2 separate regions of the Homo sapiens genome follow, and region 1 is linked to region 2. The links come from fine-mapping of genetic effects on gene expression. A gene starts in region 2. The other region holds a variant in brackets. All regions are shown on one strand. Distances are from middle to middle. Region 1 overlaps CRYBG3 (crystallin beta-gamma domain containing 3). Region 2 holds the start of CRYBG3 (crystallin beta-gamma domain containing 3).

Evidence for each region. PIP is the estimated chance that this variant, and not a neighbour inherited with it, causes the effect. A credible set is the group of variants that fine-mapping cannot tell apart.
Region 1: its variant is the best candidate, but not a certain one, in a credible set for the expression of CRYBG3 in whole blood (INTERVAL, PIP 0.53).

What each region holds. Positions count from the first base shown.
Region 1 is chr3:97,903,660-97,912,561 of GRCh38, reverse strand. It overlaps CRYBG3 (crystallin beta-gamma domain containing 3), which reads right to left. Exons shown (of 22, transcript NM_153605.4): 16 at 286-395. Among named protein-coding and RNA genes, the nearest start is that of RIOX2, 64 kb to the left of the region's middle. RefSeq lists enhancers at 1,520-2,109, 2,110-2,700. The variant G/A (reference allele first, on the strand shown) is at 3,488.
Region 2 is chr3:97,817,913-97,826,814 of GRCh38, reverse strand. It overlaps CRYBG3 (crystallin beta-gamma domain containing 3), which reads right to left and starts at 4,804. Exons shown (of 22, transcript NM_153605.4): 1 at 4,460-4,804. The coding sequence starts at 4,608. LOC101929298 (a long non-coding RNA gene) reads left to right here and starts at 5,039. Exons shown (of 3, transcript XR_427389.3): 1 at 5,039-5,128; 2 at 8,312-8,411. RefSeq lists a silencer at 4,658-5,027.

The sequences.
Region 1 (8,902 bases), 86 kb before region 2:
ATATACAATATAAACATTCAAAATATTTAGGAAATAATCTGAGATCACAGTGAGAGACAAAAATCAAAATGTTCCCTAAGTTGGTTAATCAGCATTCTGTTTTTCTGTATTCCATCACAGCTCAAAATACAAATTAAGCAAAATTAATATAGACCAGTTAGCAGGTAAAATGCCTGTTGAAGATAAATTTTAAGGATTCACTGTGCATGCAAAAAATATATCTCTGTAAATTTAAAAGTATTAGTTATTAAATAACAGCAGAAACCACTAAGTAAGCATACTTACCAACCTCGAAGAACTTTAAAAGAACATGGCATGAGTGAAGTCAAATCAGAAGTTTCTTCTGTAAAATCTATACATTCACCTTGGAACCCTGGTTTGCTGAATGCTTTGAGCTACAAGAACAACAACACAACAGTTAAATAGAAAAAAAATGGTCTTAGATGATCACGAGCAAATAAAAACCTTTAATTTCATGAATTTATAAAATGCAGCAAAATATCAGACTCATGTTTTATCTATTATCAATGAATTCATGTTAGGGATAATGATATGCTCCTTAAACTTGCTTTCTTACATGTATTCAGGAATGGAATGTCACTGTTTGTTTACCATTTTCTTGCCTCTCTTCCACCAAATTGTGGGAAGAGAGGCCTAGAAATCAATTCTACCTAGAAGAGTACATCAGAGTCCTCCCTCCACTAACATGTGGTCCTTTATTCTCTCAAAAAATCATTATGCCCTATGTTGAGACTAGATGTATAAAATAAGAAGCAATTTAGTGCTAAACCTGAAAGAGGCTTAGATTAGTATGAGGCTACATGGTATGCTGCTTCTCTCCCTAGCTCTTCCTGATCCACAGTTAATATAAGAAGAGGAGAGCACGAGCACATGCCCTTAAGCAAGCACTAAGAGTGCCCAGGAGGGCACAGAAGCAGATGGCAGAGGAGATAATAATGACGGGATTAGTGGAAGATTTCTGGTGAAGAAAGAAAGATATCTGTGTTATGTATTTCAGCTTACAGGCTTCGGTTTTCTGATAAGAATACCTTAAATGTGCAGCTTACAGTTATATACAACTACATGTCTACTTTAGTCAATTTTGTCAAGAAAAATCCATGAAATCTCAACTATAATTCCCTTTAGACCAGATATATAATAATCTGCAACTCTAGTAGCCTTGAATCTACAATAGGAATGAAAAAAATTAAAGAGCCCGTAAAAATTTCATAACACACTGGAGACTTGGAACAACATGGCCCACAGGTCCACCCTGCACTGACAGGCCTGCACTAGGGCACAGAACATCACAACAAACCATCTGCTCATGCTGTCATCGAGGATAAGGCTTTTCTGAGCAGCTAATGTTCACCTCCCTCGTCTTCCCAAAGGCCTCTACTTAGAATTGTTTCTTGGTTATCTCATTCTGCTCTGACCTTACTTGATCTGTTATCAAAGATCAGTCAAAATCAGGGAGGTGAGAAAACTACTTCCCCATATCATCTGTGGCTTGCACAACACCACTTCCTACTGTGAAACCACACTGTATTTGGAGGATTAAAACATCAAGGGACTTCTTGCCTTAAGGAGATGTGATCCAGCAAGTTTCTGCTGTAGTCCTAGCAGATATAGAGGATAGCAAAGAAATGAAGTCCAAACCAAGACATACTTAGGTTTTTTAACTTAAAGATGTATAAAATGTGAGGCTAAAAAGCAAATCACTTTTAACCTCCAAAAAATGCAGAGACATTTCTCCTGCATAGAAATATCTTTAAAAAAATAAAAGAAGGGGGAGGAGCCAAGATGGCCGAATAGGAACAGCTCCGGTCTACAGCTCCCAGCGTGAGTGACGCAGAAGACGGTGATTTCTGCATTTCCATCTGAGGTACCGGGTTCACCTCACTAGGGAGTGCCAGACAGTGGGCCCAGGTCATGGGTGCGTGCACCGTGCGCGAACCGAAGCAGGGAGAGGCATTGCCTCACTTGGGAAGCGCAAGGGGTCAGGGAGTTCCCTTTCTGAGTCAAAGAAAGGGGTGACGGACAGCACCTGGAAAATCGGTTCACTCCCACCCTAATACTGCACTTTTCCGGCGGGCTTAAAAAACGGTACACCACGAGATTATATCCTGCACCTGGCTCGGAGGGTCCTACGCCCACAGAGTCTCGCTGATTGCTAGCACAGCAGTCTGAGAACAAACTGCAAGGCGGCAGCCAGGCTGGGGGAGGGGTGCCCGCCATTGCCCAGGCTTGATTAGGTAAACAAAGCAGCCAGGAAGCTCGAACTGGGTGGAGCCCACCACAGCTCAAGGAGGCCTGCCTGCCTCTGTAGGCTCCACCTCTGGGGGCAGGGCACAGACAAACAAAAAGACAGCAGTAACCTCTGCAGACTTAAATGTCCCTGTCTGACAGCTTTGAAGAGAGCAGTGGTTCTCTCAGCACGCAGCTGGAGATCTGAGAACGGGCAGACTGCCTCCTCAAGTGGGTCCCTGACCCCTGACCCCTGAGCAGCCTAACTGGGAGGCACCCCCAGGCAGGGGCACACTGACACCTCACACGGCAGGGTATTCCAACAGACCTGCAGCTGAGGGTCCTGTCTGTTAGAAGGAAAACTAACAAACAGAAAGGACATCCACACCAAAAACCCATCTGTACATCACCATCATCAAAGACCAAAAGTAGATAAAACCACAAAGATGGGGAAAAAACAGAACAGAAAAACTGGAAACTCTAAAAAGCAGAGCGCCTCTCCTCCTCCAAAGGAACGCAGTTCCTCACCAGCAACGGAACAAAGCTGGATGGAGAATGACTTTGACGAGCTGAGAGAAGAAGGCTTCAGACGATCAAATTACTCTGAGCTACGGGAGGACATTCAAACTGAAGGCAAAGAAGTTGAAAACTTTGAAAAAAATTTAGAAGAATGTATAACTAGAATAACCAATACAGAGAAGTGCTTAAAGGAGCTGATGGAGCTGAAAACCAAGGCTCGAGAACTACGTGAAGAATGCAGAAGCCTCAGGAGCCAATGCAATCAACTGGAAGAAAGGGTATCAGCGATGGAAGATGAAATGAATGAAATGAAGCGAGAAGGGAAGTTTAGAGAAAAAAGAATAAAAAGAAATGAGCAAAGCCTCCAAGAAATATGGGACTATGTGAAAAGACCAAATCTATGTCTGATTGGTGTACCTGAAAGTGATGGGGAGAATGGAACCAAGTTGGAAAACACTCTGCAGGATATTATCCAGGAGAACTTCCCCAATCTAGCAAGGCAGGCCAACGTTCAGATTCAGGAAATACAGAGAACGCCACAAAGATACTCCTTGAGAAGAGCAACTCCAAGACACATAATTGTCAGATTCACCAAAGTTGAAATGAAGGAAAAAATGTTAAGGGCAGCCAGAGAGAAAGGTCGGGTTACCCTCAAAGGGAAGCCCATCAGACTAACAGAGGATCTCTCGGCAGAAACCCTACAAGCCAGAGGGGAGTGGGG[G/A]CCAATATTCAACATTCTTAAAGAAAAGAATTTTCAACCCAGAATTTCATATCCAGCCAAACTAAGCTTCATAAGTGAAGGAGAAATAAAATACTTTACAGACAAGCATATGCTGAGAGATTTTGTCACCACCAGGCCTGCCCTAAAAGAGCTCCTGAAGGAAGCGCTAAACATGGAAAGGAACAACCAGTACCAGCCGCTGCAAAATCATGCCAAAATGTAACGACCATCCAGACTAGGAAGAAACTGCATCAACTAATGAGCAAAATAACCAGCTAACATCATAATGACAGGATCAAGTTCACACATAACAATATTAACTTTAAATATAAATGGACTAAATGCTCCAATTAAAAGACACAGACTGGCAAATTGGATAAAGAGTCAAGACCCATCAGTGTGCTGTATTCAGGAAACCCATCTCATGTGCAGAGACACACATAGGCTCAAAATAAAAGGATGGAGGAAGATCTATGAAGCAAATGGAAAACAAAAAAAGGCAGGGGTTGCAATCCTAGTCTCTGATAAAACAGACTTTAAACCAACAAAGATCAAAAAAGACAAAGAAGGCCAATACATAATGGTAAGGGGATCAATTCAACAAGAAGAGCTAACTGTCCTAAATATATATGCACCCAATACAGGAGCACCAAGATTCATAAAGCAAGTCCTGAGTGACCTAAAAAGAGACTTAGACTCCCACATATTAATAATGGGAGACTTTAACACCCCACTGTCAACATTAGACAGATCAACGAGACTGAAAGTCAACAAGGATACCCAGGAATTGAACTCAGCTCTGCACCAAGCGGACCTAATAGACATCTACAGAACTCTCCACCCCAAATCAACAGAATATACATTTTTTTCAGCACCACAACACACCTATTCCAAAATTGACCACATACTTGGAAGTAAAGCTCTCCTCAGCAAATGTAAAAGAATAGAAATAATAACAAACTATCTCTCAGACCACAGTGCAATCAAACTAGACCTCAGGATTAGGAATCTCACTCAAAACCTCTCAACTACATGGAAACTGAACAACCTGCTCCTGAATGACTACTGGGTACATAACAAAATGAAGGCAGAAATAAAGATGTTCTTTGAAACCAACGGGAACAAAGACACAACATACCAGAATCTCTGGGACGCATTCAAAGCAGTGTGTAGAGGGAAATTTATAGCACTAAATGCCCACAAGAGAAAGCAGGAAAGATCCAAAATTGACACCCTAACATCACAATTAAAAGAACTAGAAAAGCAAGAGCAAACACATTCAAAAGCTAGCAGAAGGCAAGAAATAACTAAAATCACAGCAGAACTGAAGGAAATAGAGACACAAAACACCCTTCAAAAAATTAATGAATCCAGGAGCTGGTTTTTTGAAAGGATCAACAAAATTGATAGACCGCTAGCAAGACTAATAAAGAAAAAAAGAGAGAAGAATCAAATAGACGCAATAAAAAATGATAAAGGGGATATCACCACCGATCCCACAGAAATACAAACTACCATCAGAGAATACTACAAACACCTCTACGCAAATAAACTAGAAAATCTAGAAGAAATGGATAAATTCCTTGACACATACACTCTCCCAAGACTAAACCAGGAAGAAGTTGAATCTCTGAATAGACCAATAACAGGATCTGAAATTGTGGCAATAATCAATAGATTACCAACCAAAAAGAGTCCAGGACCAGATGGATTCACAGCCGAATTCTACCAGAGGTACAAGGAGGAACTGGTACCAATCCTTTTGAAACTATTCCAATCAATAGAAAAAGAGGGAATCCTCCCTAACTCATTTTATGAGGGCAGCATCATTCTGATACCAAAGCCAGGCAGAGACACAATAAAAAAAGAGAATTTTAGACCAATATCCTTGATGAACATTGATGCAAAAATCCTCAATAAAATACTGGCAAACCGAATCCAGCAGCACATCAAAAAGATTATCCACCATGATCAAGTGGGCTTCATCCCTGGGATGCAAGGCTGTTTCAATATATGCAAATCAATAAATGTAATCCAGCATATAAACAGAGCCAAAGACAAAAACCACATGATTATCTCAATAGATGCAGAAAAAGCCTTTGACAAAATTCAACAACCCTTCATGCTAAAAACTCTCAATAAATTAGGTATTGATGGGACGTATTTCAAAATAATAAGAGCTATCTATGACAAACCCACAGCCAATATCATACTGAATGGGCAAAAACTGGAAGCATTCCCTTTGAAAACTGGCACATGACAGGGATGCCCTCTCTCACCACTCCTATTCAACACAGTGTTGGAAGTTCTGGCCAGGGCAATTAGGCAGGAGAAGGAAATAAAGGGTATTCAGTTAGGAAAAGAGGAAGTCAAATTGTCCCTGTTTGCAGATGACATGATTGTATATCTAGAAAACCCCATTGTCTCAGCCCAAAATCTCCTTAAGCTGATAAGCAACTTCAGCAAAGTCTCAGGATACAAAATCAATGTACAAAAATCACAAGCATTCTTATACACCAACAACAGACAAACAGAGAACCAAATCATGAGTGAACTCCCATTCACAATTGCTTCAAAGAGAATAAAATACCTAGGAATCCAACTTACAAGGGATGTGAAGGACCTCTTCAAGGAGAACTACAAACCACTGCTCAAGGAAATAAAAGAGGATACAAACAAATGGAAGAACATTCCATGCTCATGGGTAGGAAGAATCAATATCGTGAAAATGGCCATACTGCCCAAGGTAATTTACAGATTCAATGCCATCCCCATCAAGCTACCAATGCCTTTCTTCACAGAATTGGAAAAAACTACTTTAAAGTTCATATGGAACCAAAAAAGAGCCCGCATTGCGAAGTCAATCCTAAGCCAAAAGAACAAAGCTGGAGGCATCACACTACCTGACTTCAAACGATACTACAAGGCTACAGTAACCAAAACAGTATGGTACTGGTACCAAAACAGAGATATAGATCAATGGAACAGAACAGAGCCCTCAGAAATAACGCCGCATATCTACAACTATCTGATCTTTGACAAACCTGAGAAAAACAAGCAATGGGGAAAGGATTCCCTATTTAATAAATGGTGCTGGGAAAACTGGCTAGCCATATGCAGAAAGCTGAAACTGGATCCCTTCCTTATACCTTATACAAAAATCAATTCAAGATGGATTAAAGACTTAAACGTTAGACCTAAAACCATAAAAACCCTAGAAGAAAACCTAGGCAATACCATTCAGGACATAGGCATGGGCAAGGACTTCATGTCTAAAACACCAAAAGCAATGGCAATAAAAGCCAAAATTGACAAATGGGATCTAATTAAACTAAAGAGCTTCTGCACAGCAAAAGAAACTACCATCAGAGTGAACAGGCAACCTACAAAATGGGAGAAAATTTTCACAACCTACTCATCTGACAAAGGGCTAATATCCAGAATCTACAATGAACTCAAACAAATTTACAAGAAAAAAGCAAACAACCCCATCAAAAAGTGGGCAAAGGACTTGAACAGACACTTCTCAAAAGAAGACATTTATGCAGCCAAAACACACATGAAAAAATGCTCATCATCACTGGCCATCAGAGAAATGCAAATCAAAACCACAATGAGATACCATCTCACACCAGTTAGAATGGCAATCATTAAAAAGTCAGGAAACAACAGGTGCTGGAGAGGATGTGAAGAAATAGGAACACTTTTACACTGTTGGTGGGACTGTAAACTAGTTCAACCATTGTGGAAGTCAGTGTGGCGATTCCTCAGGGATCTAGAACTGGAAATATCATTTGACCCAGCCATCCCATTACTGGGTATATACCCAAAGGACTATAAATCATGCTGCTATAAAGACACATGCACACGTATATTTATTGCGGCATTATTCACAATAGCAAAGACTTGGAACCAACCCAAATGTCCAACAATGATAGACTGGATTAAGAAAATGTGTCACATATATACCACGGAATACTATGCAGCCATAAAAAATGATGAGTTCATGTCCTTTGTAGGGACATGGATGAAATTGGAAATCATCATTCTCAGTAAACTATACTATCGCAAGAACAAAAAACCAAACACCGCATATTCTCACTCATAGGTGGGAACTGAACAATGAGATCACATGGACACAGGAAGGGGAATATCACACTCTGGGGACTGTCATGGGGTGGGGGGAGGGTGGAGGGATAGCATTGGGAGATATACCTAATGCTAGATGACGAGTTAGTGGGTGCAGTGCACCAGCATGGCACATGTATACATATGTAACTAACCTGCACAAGGTGCACATGTACCCTAAAACTTAAAGTATAATAATAATAAAAAAAAGATTATAAAAAAAAGACTCAGAAACTTAAAAAAAAATAAAAATAAAAAAATAAAAAATAAAAAAAATAAAAATAAAAGAAAAGCCGCATGAGAAGAGAGACAGGTTGTCTTGTTCACTAACTACATTCCCAGTTTGTTTATTAGTTGTATACTGCTGAGCTGAAGATTTATACTTCAACATTTTCACAATGAAGCCATGAAACATCAAATCCTGGACTACTGATACTGCCAGTGAAGCATATTTCAGATGGTATATACAGTAGCCACCTCCAGTTTTTTGTCTCAGTCTTCATACCCGGAAAAATCAATTAAAATTCATATACACACGCAGAAATAATGTTATAAAGTATCTCTTGATTTGATGGGTTAAAATAATCTTTGTCCAAACTTTAAAAACTGGGTTAAATGCTTATCTGAGTTGACTAGATGAGATATGGTATATGATTCACCCAGAATTAGACCAATTCTACAAAAATATGCCTCACTTTGATCACCTTATCAATCCTCAAAATAGAACAATTCTCATAATAATGTTCTGAGGATTGTCCATAGAGAAACCAACTCTGAGCTTGCTGATTATAATAATTAACTTGTGGTTTCTACTGTTGGTGAAATTAAGGACAGAGCCTTGGAGAAATTCAGTCCTTGGAAAAACTAGCTGGATAAATGACCATGTTGGCTACCTTTACAGAACAATCGATAACAAATATACAAAACAACTCAGGTTGCTTAAAACCGAGGCAAATTGACAAATAAGAGATGAGTGTTTTCCAGACTACACCCATCCTTCTGTGCCATGTTGGTACGGCTCAATCCCTAACAGCTCCCCAACTGGAAATGGAAGCGAAGGAAAAAAAGTATTCCTCTGGTTTGCTTTTCACATGTATTATTGTATTTCTTTCTTAGAACTACCAGTATTGAGCAGAAATTATCTCCACTATATTATGAAGATTTTACAGAAATTCTTTTTGCTACATAATTTTCACTTATATACTAACAATATGTGGTAATATATATCTTTAATATGACAAACTAAAAATGCAATGAACTACTGACAAAACACAGCTGTGCTCACTT
Region 2 (8,902 bases):
ACTTTTATCTCCTCCATTAATGTGTGAATTCTATGAAGGCATATTTGGTCATCCATTTATGGTTATATCCACATTGCTTTGCACCATATGAGACACAAAGCAGCCACTCTAACTTATGGATTGAACAGACTCAAAGTAGGTATTACCTCCTTAACTTTTACTTCATGCTGATTCCTTCTTTTCAGCATATAGCCTAGATTATTTTCCTTAATTTTACAACCACCTACAGTTTGTTGCTATCATTTTATTTAATAATTGGTAACTAACGTTTCTTATATCTGGACTTTGGTATATTTCATCAGAACTTTGGATAGAAAATATTTTGTCTTGAGGGAATATTTTCTCTTATTTTACAAAACTTGCTATTACCCTTTTTACATATTTTCCGCTGTTATGAGTAAAAAAACTTAAAAATGTTATAACTGTCAATAAAGTTAGAAGTTCTGATTATATAAACTTACTGCAGGTCAATTTGTGGTACCTTTGCAACTTTAACACTTTCAGAGCATACAATTGAGTCCATTTCCAAGGAATGTTCACAGCAAAAAATAGAATTCCCAAATTAGCCATCTGGTAGACACCTTATTGAACCCAAGAGATGGAAATCACTTGGAAAAGGTGGACTTTTGATACCCTACAACAGGCTATATTTTGACTCTGCTGCCAAGAGTAAGCTTTTGCTTTGAATTAACCTAGAGGAGCAGAGGGGGACAAGATTCTCACAAATTACACACCCCTAAAGACTTCTGGAATTCTCTCGTCATCTTCACTACTGAAGGCATGAACTGCTGATGTGACACAGGTATCTCCTATCCAACTAACTAGTTACCAATTATTTTTAGTGCTTCAAATCAATAAAAATGCAATCATCATGACAATTTAGAAAACAAAGCTTCCTTTCCTCACATAACTGATGCTGTTGTCAACACTGGTAGTTTAACCTGAAGGCCAATAGCTCTCCCATGCTGGTCATCAGAAGTACTACTGACATTTCTGACAGTACAGAGTACCTCCTACACCACAGCTCATTAGCAGCCTGGTCCCACCCATTCACCTCCTCTCACGATTTAGGGTAATCACTCTCCACTGGGAGTGGTATCACTCTCCCTCCCACCCACCTGGGTGGAGGAATTTTCAGTTATCCCAATGACCAGAGGATGCTACTGGCAATTAGTGTGTGTAATCATGGATACCAAACATCTTGCAAAGGACAAAAGAGTCCAGTTCAAAGAATTGTTCCATTCAAAACGCCCATAGCATCCATCACTGAGCACTCTCCCAAACTCAGTTTCTTCAATTGTCAGATCGTAAAAGTGGACCAACATTTCACACTGAGTGTGAGATTTACATGATACGTTGCAAGTAAAAGTACCCAGCCCAGAAGTAAGTGCACAGTCAGCCCTTGATAAATACTGTTCTCACCTTACCATCTCTCTTCACAGTTACAAACATTGCACAGAACTCATTTTAAACAGGTCCATCATGCATGATACAGCCAAGAAACAAAGTTGAGCAATCATTTCTTGAAGCAGATAAAGGCAGGAATTCCTCCAAGTTTCATATTTCAGCAATATCTGTATAACAGGCTTTTGCAAAAATTCTCTGAGCCTTAAATCTAGAGCCAAACATTTTGTCTAGAGACCTTTATAACCCAGTTCCAACCTAAATTTCTTACTGCTCCTTTCACTCTGTCCCATTAATGTATATATCCCCTAACAGATCATAAACCCCTTGCAGGCCTTTGCTCAGTCTGGAATGCCTTTTCCCGGAATACCTGTTCCCTATTCTCTCTCTTCCTAAGTTCTCTTTGTATAGAAACATCACCAATTCCTTGAAGACCCAGTTAAAATCATCCCTACCAGGAAGCACTTCCTGGTCTCCCCTATCACTTCTAATGAGTCCATTCCTTGTATGCTTATAAACTGGGCTTAACACTGCACCAGTGATTCTCAAACTGGGATCCACAGAACTCTGGGAGTTTTTGAGTTTCCTATGAAAACTTCAATTGCAGTTTTCCTTTTTATCATCTAAAATAAATTAATATAAGCATTTCCTGGAAATGGTCAACCACCTAATATGAGTACAATCAAGCAATTTGAGTGCCTACGCCTAAGTTGGGATATACAATAGTGTTGATGCTAATAGGCCTTCTTTAATTGTGACAAAGAAAGAATACATAATGAAGTGTTGTCACCAACTGAAGCCCATATAAATCACAGCACACCATAAAAACAAAGATTTTCCTATGGTTCAAAACAGTAAAATATTGGAAGACCTGTATCAAGGCATGGCAGCTCCCCAAAGACCTGGTGTTTGTCCCAGTACGCATTTTGTGAGCAGGCAAAAAAACAGTTTCAGGATGTTGTAAATTCGACTTTTACGGGTCTCATAATTATGTTTTAGTTTATTTTTTAATTTTGTACTCCTCTTCATCTAAAATCATCACTACAGAAGGTATACCCAGCTCTCATAATGATAAAAGTTTTTATGCCCACAAAGAGAAATAGCCAAAATACTCTTTCATTTTGAAATAAGATCACAGTGACAAATTGCAATTCTGTTTCCAATCTTGTTAACATCAGGGTGTTGTGTTACTGGGACATTCAGTACTATAAAGCGGTTCCATTTGTTTTATTAAACTTTCAATAAAGGCTTTGTGTTTGTTTATGCCCTTGAAATGAAAGATTTAAGCTCATTTAAAACAGTAAAACACCCACATAAAGGGTCATCTGCTATCCCCCTAACATCTGGCAAGTTCCAAAAAAGATGAGAACAAAATTAGCGTTGATATAAGCACAATTAAAATCTTCATCGTTGAAAAGCCATAATTTGTGCCAATCTGGAGATGATGAGAATAGAGAAGTGGTAGGTGAACAAGGAACTAGTTGCTGGAGGGGTCAGCTCCAGTCAGTAAAGAAATTAGAATTGAGAAGTGCCTTAAAAAGCCAAAATAGGGCAGAGAGGCAAGCAGGATTTCAGGCCATTACTGACATGAGCCTGAATTTGACCTGCTTACTCCTTTCTAACACTGACTCTCAAGTTCCCAACTTTTGCTGCGCCTACTTGGGATTTCCTTGCAGACTGCGTTCATATTATCCAAGACTGTTAGTGCTGTTACGGCGGTGGCAGGCACCACAGGCTGTCTGCCCACACCAACAGAACTAGCTGACACCCTGGATGAGATCTGTCAGACTTAAAAACTATTTTTAACTTCTGTGTAACTTTGAATTTTAAACTCTCAACAGTCAGAGCAATAATAGCTGAAACGTCCCAGGAGAATAACCACTCAATTATCGTAGGAGCTTTCTTGGAAACATGTGGCATGTTATTAACAGACGGTCATAATGAAAATGTTTCACAAGCGGGGAAACCGAGGAACACACAAACGACTAAAATCACATCACAAAATCTGAATACTAATGGAATTGGCTCACTCTCAGTTCTGTTTCCTATCCATTTTTTTTAAGCCCACCAGGAAATCTTGAGTCCGAAGTAAACACGGTTTTCTGGAGTGTGTCCTTCCAATGACAATGGTCATTCTAGTGCAATCTCGGGAGAAGACAGTGTAAGCCTCTCATAAGTTTAAGAAAGCGAGCTGCGTTTTACTTAACCCCTCTTTCTTCGGGGGGATGAAAAGACTCAGAAACAGGCATTTAAATGAGGCATGTCTAAAATTTTTTGATTTTTGAACATGGGAAAGTGAAGGAAAGATAAAAATATTACAGAGAAAGGGTACATTTTGATTACTGAAACCAAGACAGCTGGAAACCTGATTTCCAGAATCTGTTTGGGAACTTGAGGCAGATGTTTCTAGGAGAGATGAGAAATAAAGAAGGGTGGCGTCATTTACATGTCCAGTCCATTTTGGTGAAAGTCTTGGGAACGCATTATCACAATTCCTTTTAAAAATCATTTTGAGAAAATTTAAATAAGATGGCAAAAATACCAGCTGAGGGGGTGACGCCCCAAAGCTTTACCTTTTCCACTTTTGCCCCGATCTCCTCCCACACAAGTGGTGCTGGGATCGCGCCCCCAATTCCCCTGGCCGACGGCTCCGCTCGGCTCACAAGTGTTTCCCATTACTGCAGGCGGGACGCCGGGGAAATCGCTTTTGCCACAGAACTTGGAGAGTAGAGCGTGTGTGGAACGGGAACCCAATCACGTCCGGGCAGGGGAAAGTGGGAAAGGAAGAGCGCGGAGCCAGGCGGGGATCGGGGGATATGCGTCCGGCTGCCGGGCAAGAACTTCACCCCGATTTAACCTGCAGAGGAGAGGCGAGTAGTGCGGCACGGGAACGGGGCAAGGAGGAGGAAACTTTAGCAATGGAGGAAGGAGAACAGAAAGTGGCGAGCGAACTGCAGCCTGGCCCAAGAGCGGCCCGCTGCCGGCGGTCAGGCCGGGAGCCTTCATCCCGCGAATATGTGCAGGGCCCCCCCGCGACCCCCTCCTCGACTCCCACCTGGCAGCGGACCGGCCTGGAGCTGGAGGCGGGCTCGTCCCCGGCCTCTCCTCCTCTTCCTCTTCCTTGTCCCGGGAAGGACTTCGGGGAGCGAAGAACCGGGAGAAGCTGTGCCAGGGGGCGCTGCCCCTTCTGCGGCCGCTGGACATTTCCCGAGGGGGCCGCTGGCCCGGGGCTGTCTGAAGGGAACGGCCTAGGTGTTGCCTGGTGCCCGGAGCCCGACCGGGCGCCGCGGGATGCGGCTAGGGCAGACCGACTCGACGCGAGCTGCCAGCGCGGCTCAGTCTCTCTCGGGCAGGAGAAGTGCGGACGCGACGCGCTCCTCGCGCGGCAGCTCCTCACGCCGCTGCGGCTGCTCCTCCTCCCGCCCTCGCCCGGCGCGGCCCGCCCCACCCCGAGGAGGAGCCAGTGGCCGCGGCACCGCCCTGAGCCGGGCGCAGCCGCCACCGCTGGGGCGCTACGTGGTCCCCCGAAGGCGCCGGCCTGAGAGCCTGAGGGGAGTCGCCCAGCGTGCGACGCTAGGCTCGGGCTTACGGCTCAAACAAGTTCAGGCTGCAGCCTGTTGGGCTTTGCCTTCAATTACTTTCTGTGACCGTTGTGTTTTCTATTCTACAGTCAGAGCACAGAAACGGTTTTCTTCGGGCTTTTGAAAGAGGTTTATGAACTAAGGTTTGTGAAAACACTTGGCAAACTGCAGTACCGGGGCGCCCCGGACTTGCTGGGAGCTAAGAAACAGCTACCGCAAATACAGCTCCAACCCTGAGGGCGAAAGTCGCGTTAGCACAGAACCGGGCGGCGGGAGGGAGAAGGGGGTACCTGTCAGGCGGTCACCACCTCCCGGCGCGTTCTGCTGGCTTTCTGTGGTGTGACTTTTCCTAACCGCGCTGTGCTTCAGACTTTTCACACGCCATACTTCCCTGCGAACTCTTTCAAAAACGGCACTGATCAAAAAGTATGATTTCAAGCTTGTCAATGCTGCAACATATTTTGCAGTCGTTACACAGATGCCACTGAAATCTGGGAACCAAAGGGTGCTTAAGACTTGTTTTAAGTCTAAGTACAGTGGTATGGATTTTTCTTGGTTTTTCATACCCTATAGCAGCTAGTACAGGAGATACTGAGAGGCCCATTCACCCCAAGTGTTTTGTTTTTGTTTGAAGGCAAGCTGCCCCTGGAGTAGACGTCAAGGAAGTGATATGGCTTTTGTTCATTAAAAAATGTATACAAGTAAATGAGATAAAAATGAAATGTCCACAGCAGAGGGGAGCCTTGGAGTAATCTCCCCTCTGGCTTTCGGGTGCTGGAGGAGAAGGTTGCTCATAAGTAGATTGCATACCTATAAGCCCCAAGTCCTTTCAGCACCTGCTGGAGGCTATTGAGCCTCCCTGCCTCCCCACGCTGCCTCCCAGAAGCCCTCCAGCTCCTACTAACTGCAATAGAGCCAAGACACTCATTCTCATTTGTTCTGGCAGGATTTAACCCATTAAAGTTCAGTCAGCCCGATTTCCATCAATCGGGTTCATCTCAGTCTATCCCTCAAGATTAATCCTTTTTTACTCTTTGGTAAATTTTTCCTATTTCTCTGTGAGCCTAGTCTGAGAAAATAGAAAAAGACTAAGATAATAGACTAGAATAAGACAAGTTCCCAATTCTAGCTTTATTATTTTATAAGAGAATCTCCACTGAAGACCCACTTACCAAAAAGCCCAAAGAGAGTAATAAAGCAAACTGTTTCTTCCAGCTAAAAGGCCCAAATGATAATTTGTCTTCCCAACGTATTATTGAATGACTATCACATTTGTCCCTGACTTGTTCTGTGATCAAACCAGGCCCCAGTGCCTACCCAGAGGGTACTTCGTTCAGGAAGTTTTTCTTGGAATAAAAATGGGGGGGAGTCAATAGGATTTAATTAATGAATTATGGTTTTAACTAATAATATATCTAACAATACTCTGATCTCCACTCGGTAGCACAGCAAAGCACTTAAGTGAATGGTAAATACAAATAATGCCATGTTTACACTAAGACAAATTGCGTCTATGACAAAATAGCTTAAAGTCATAAAACAATGACCATTGAATTTTCCTTCATTTGCTTTCTGAGCACTTATTAGTTTTCTATATGTCCTACATTGTTATAACCTGAACTCATATGAACAAATTTCTAAATACTAAATTCTAAGATTGCATTAGGAAGCCTGTAAAAATGTCAAATTTTAGAGCTGTAAGGATCTTAGAGATACTAATTTAGCACAGTGTCATTAATTCACTGATCCAGTTATTCCCCGACGTTTAGTGAGTGCCTGCAGTAGAAGCACATCTACAGTGAAGCCGATGAGGCTCAAGTTTCTTGGCTCCCTGCTGGCACAGTCTCTTCCAGTGTGAACTCAGCAATGGGATCCATGGCCAGTTTTATCAAATTTACAAAAGTAAATGTTTTAATGTGATTAAGACCACAATCTCTTTTTTTTTCCACTTAGATGTCCACTTAGATTTTCTTTTCCACTTAGAGTTATCAAGAGCATTTGGGAATCTGCTAGGGAATTTCAGTTGGGAATATATTTAGTTTGGACTTAGTGGAATATATTTATGTGGTTTCCAGCCTCTCCAAAGTATAGTTATTTCTTAAATTCCAATTTGTTTGTAGCGCAGCTCACCAAGTATTACACCCAAGATGCAGAGCCAGAGGAGATATATTCTGTGGTCTCTGACACTGAAAATATGTGGGTAATAGAGGTGAGACAAGATTTGAAAGGTAAAGCAGCATCAGGTGTCATGTGGAAAATTATTCCAGGCATCAGAAGACAAAGTTTCAACAGGAAGGATTGCCTCCGATTGATGTAATTTCTCTCATAGCAATAATATATTCAATAATGCAGTATATTTAATTTTTTTTTTGAGACAGAGTCTGGCGCTGTCACCTTGGCTGGGGTGCAGTGGTGCAATTTCAACTCACTGAAACCTCCGCCTCCTGGGTTCAAGCAATTCTCCTGTCTCAGCCTCCAGAGTGGCTGGGACTACAGGCGCCCACCACCATGCCCAGCTAATTTTTGTATTTTCAGTAGAGACGGGGTTTGACCATATTGGTCAGGCTGGTCTCGAACTCCTGACCTCAGGTAATCCACCCGTCTCAGCCACCCAAAATAATTTTTATAACTGTAAACACAAAACATTTTTTCTTGTTGATGTAAACCATGTAAAATAGAATTTATCAGAATTCTTGTTTGTAGGGTACAAACCTGTAGCAGTACCACAAGCTTTGTGTGTGTGTGTGTAGTACTGCATGTTTACACAGCCTTTCTATCAATAAGAAAAACAGAACTAGAGGAAAGATTGCATTATCTTTTCATTATTATGGAAAATAATATTACTAAATTATTGTCATATGAAAGGCTATTGAAGAGTACACTGCCAAAAATATAGGAAAAAAAGTGATTGTGCAAGGCATTTAGTAAGAAAACAAATTGTTTTTCTAGTCAACCTTTTAAAATTAGTAATTTGCATGGTTTATGTTTTCATTCAATATATTCATTTTTATATCTAATTTTCTTTTAAATCCTTTTTCTTTAAAGAGGACCCTCCAAATTGTAAAAACTTCAGATCCCACAAAACCTGGATATGTCCTCTAGTGCATACTATGTGTCAGATACATGCTCATTCTTAGACATAGAGATACGGTGATAGATAAGACCAAATGCTTAACATCAAGGAGCAAGTTTAATTGGGCAAGATGAGCAAATGGGGTAAGATGGGAAACATAGGACGGATCCCCAACTTAATCTGAAGGGTTCCTGGAAGGCTCACTAGAGGAGATAACTGTTAATATGCTCTCTTCTTCTCTGCCTCCTTTTAGCACCTGATTTCCACCTATAATACTGTAATTCAATAACTTGTGTGATATATGAGAAATCCTGAAGTTCATCACACTGTAACTGAATTGCCATTCCCACAACGTAAGTACCATTCTCAAAGGTATGAGAATAGAATGAAAGTGTTGATCCTTGAAGCATTTAAACTGCAAGAGTAGTTTAGTAATGCTAAGCGTTTTTGTTCTGAAAAGTCCACCAGGGAATAAGCTTCTGTATATATCTTAGAGCACAGTATTTACTGTGTGGCAGGTGGCCCAGGAATATTAAGACAGCTGTCAACATCAAGGAAAGCACCAGCCCATGAAAAAGCAAGCAGATGGATTGGGGCACTTCACTAGCTGCCTCCTAGAATAATAGCTGTGCGTGGCCAAATGAGGCAGTGTCATGCGGCCCAGGGCAGCAAAAAGCTATTACTGAATATAAGCACTCAATTAGGAGGTGGGGTGGGGGGAATATCTTCTCTTTTCCTTTGTTTATATGCTCAAATTTTCATTAAGAACTCCCACAGCAAATAAAAAAGGGGAAAAATGATGTTAGCATTTCTCATTGTTACTTTCTAATTATCATGGTTTGTA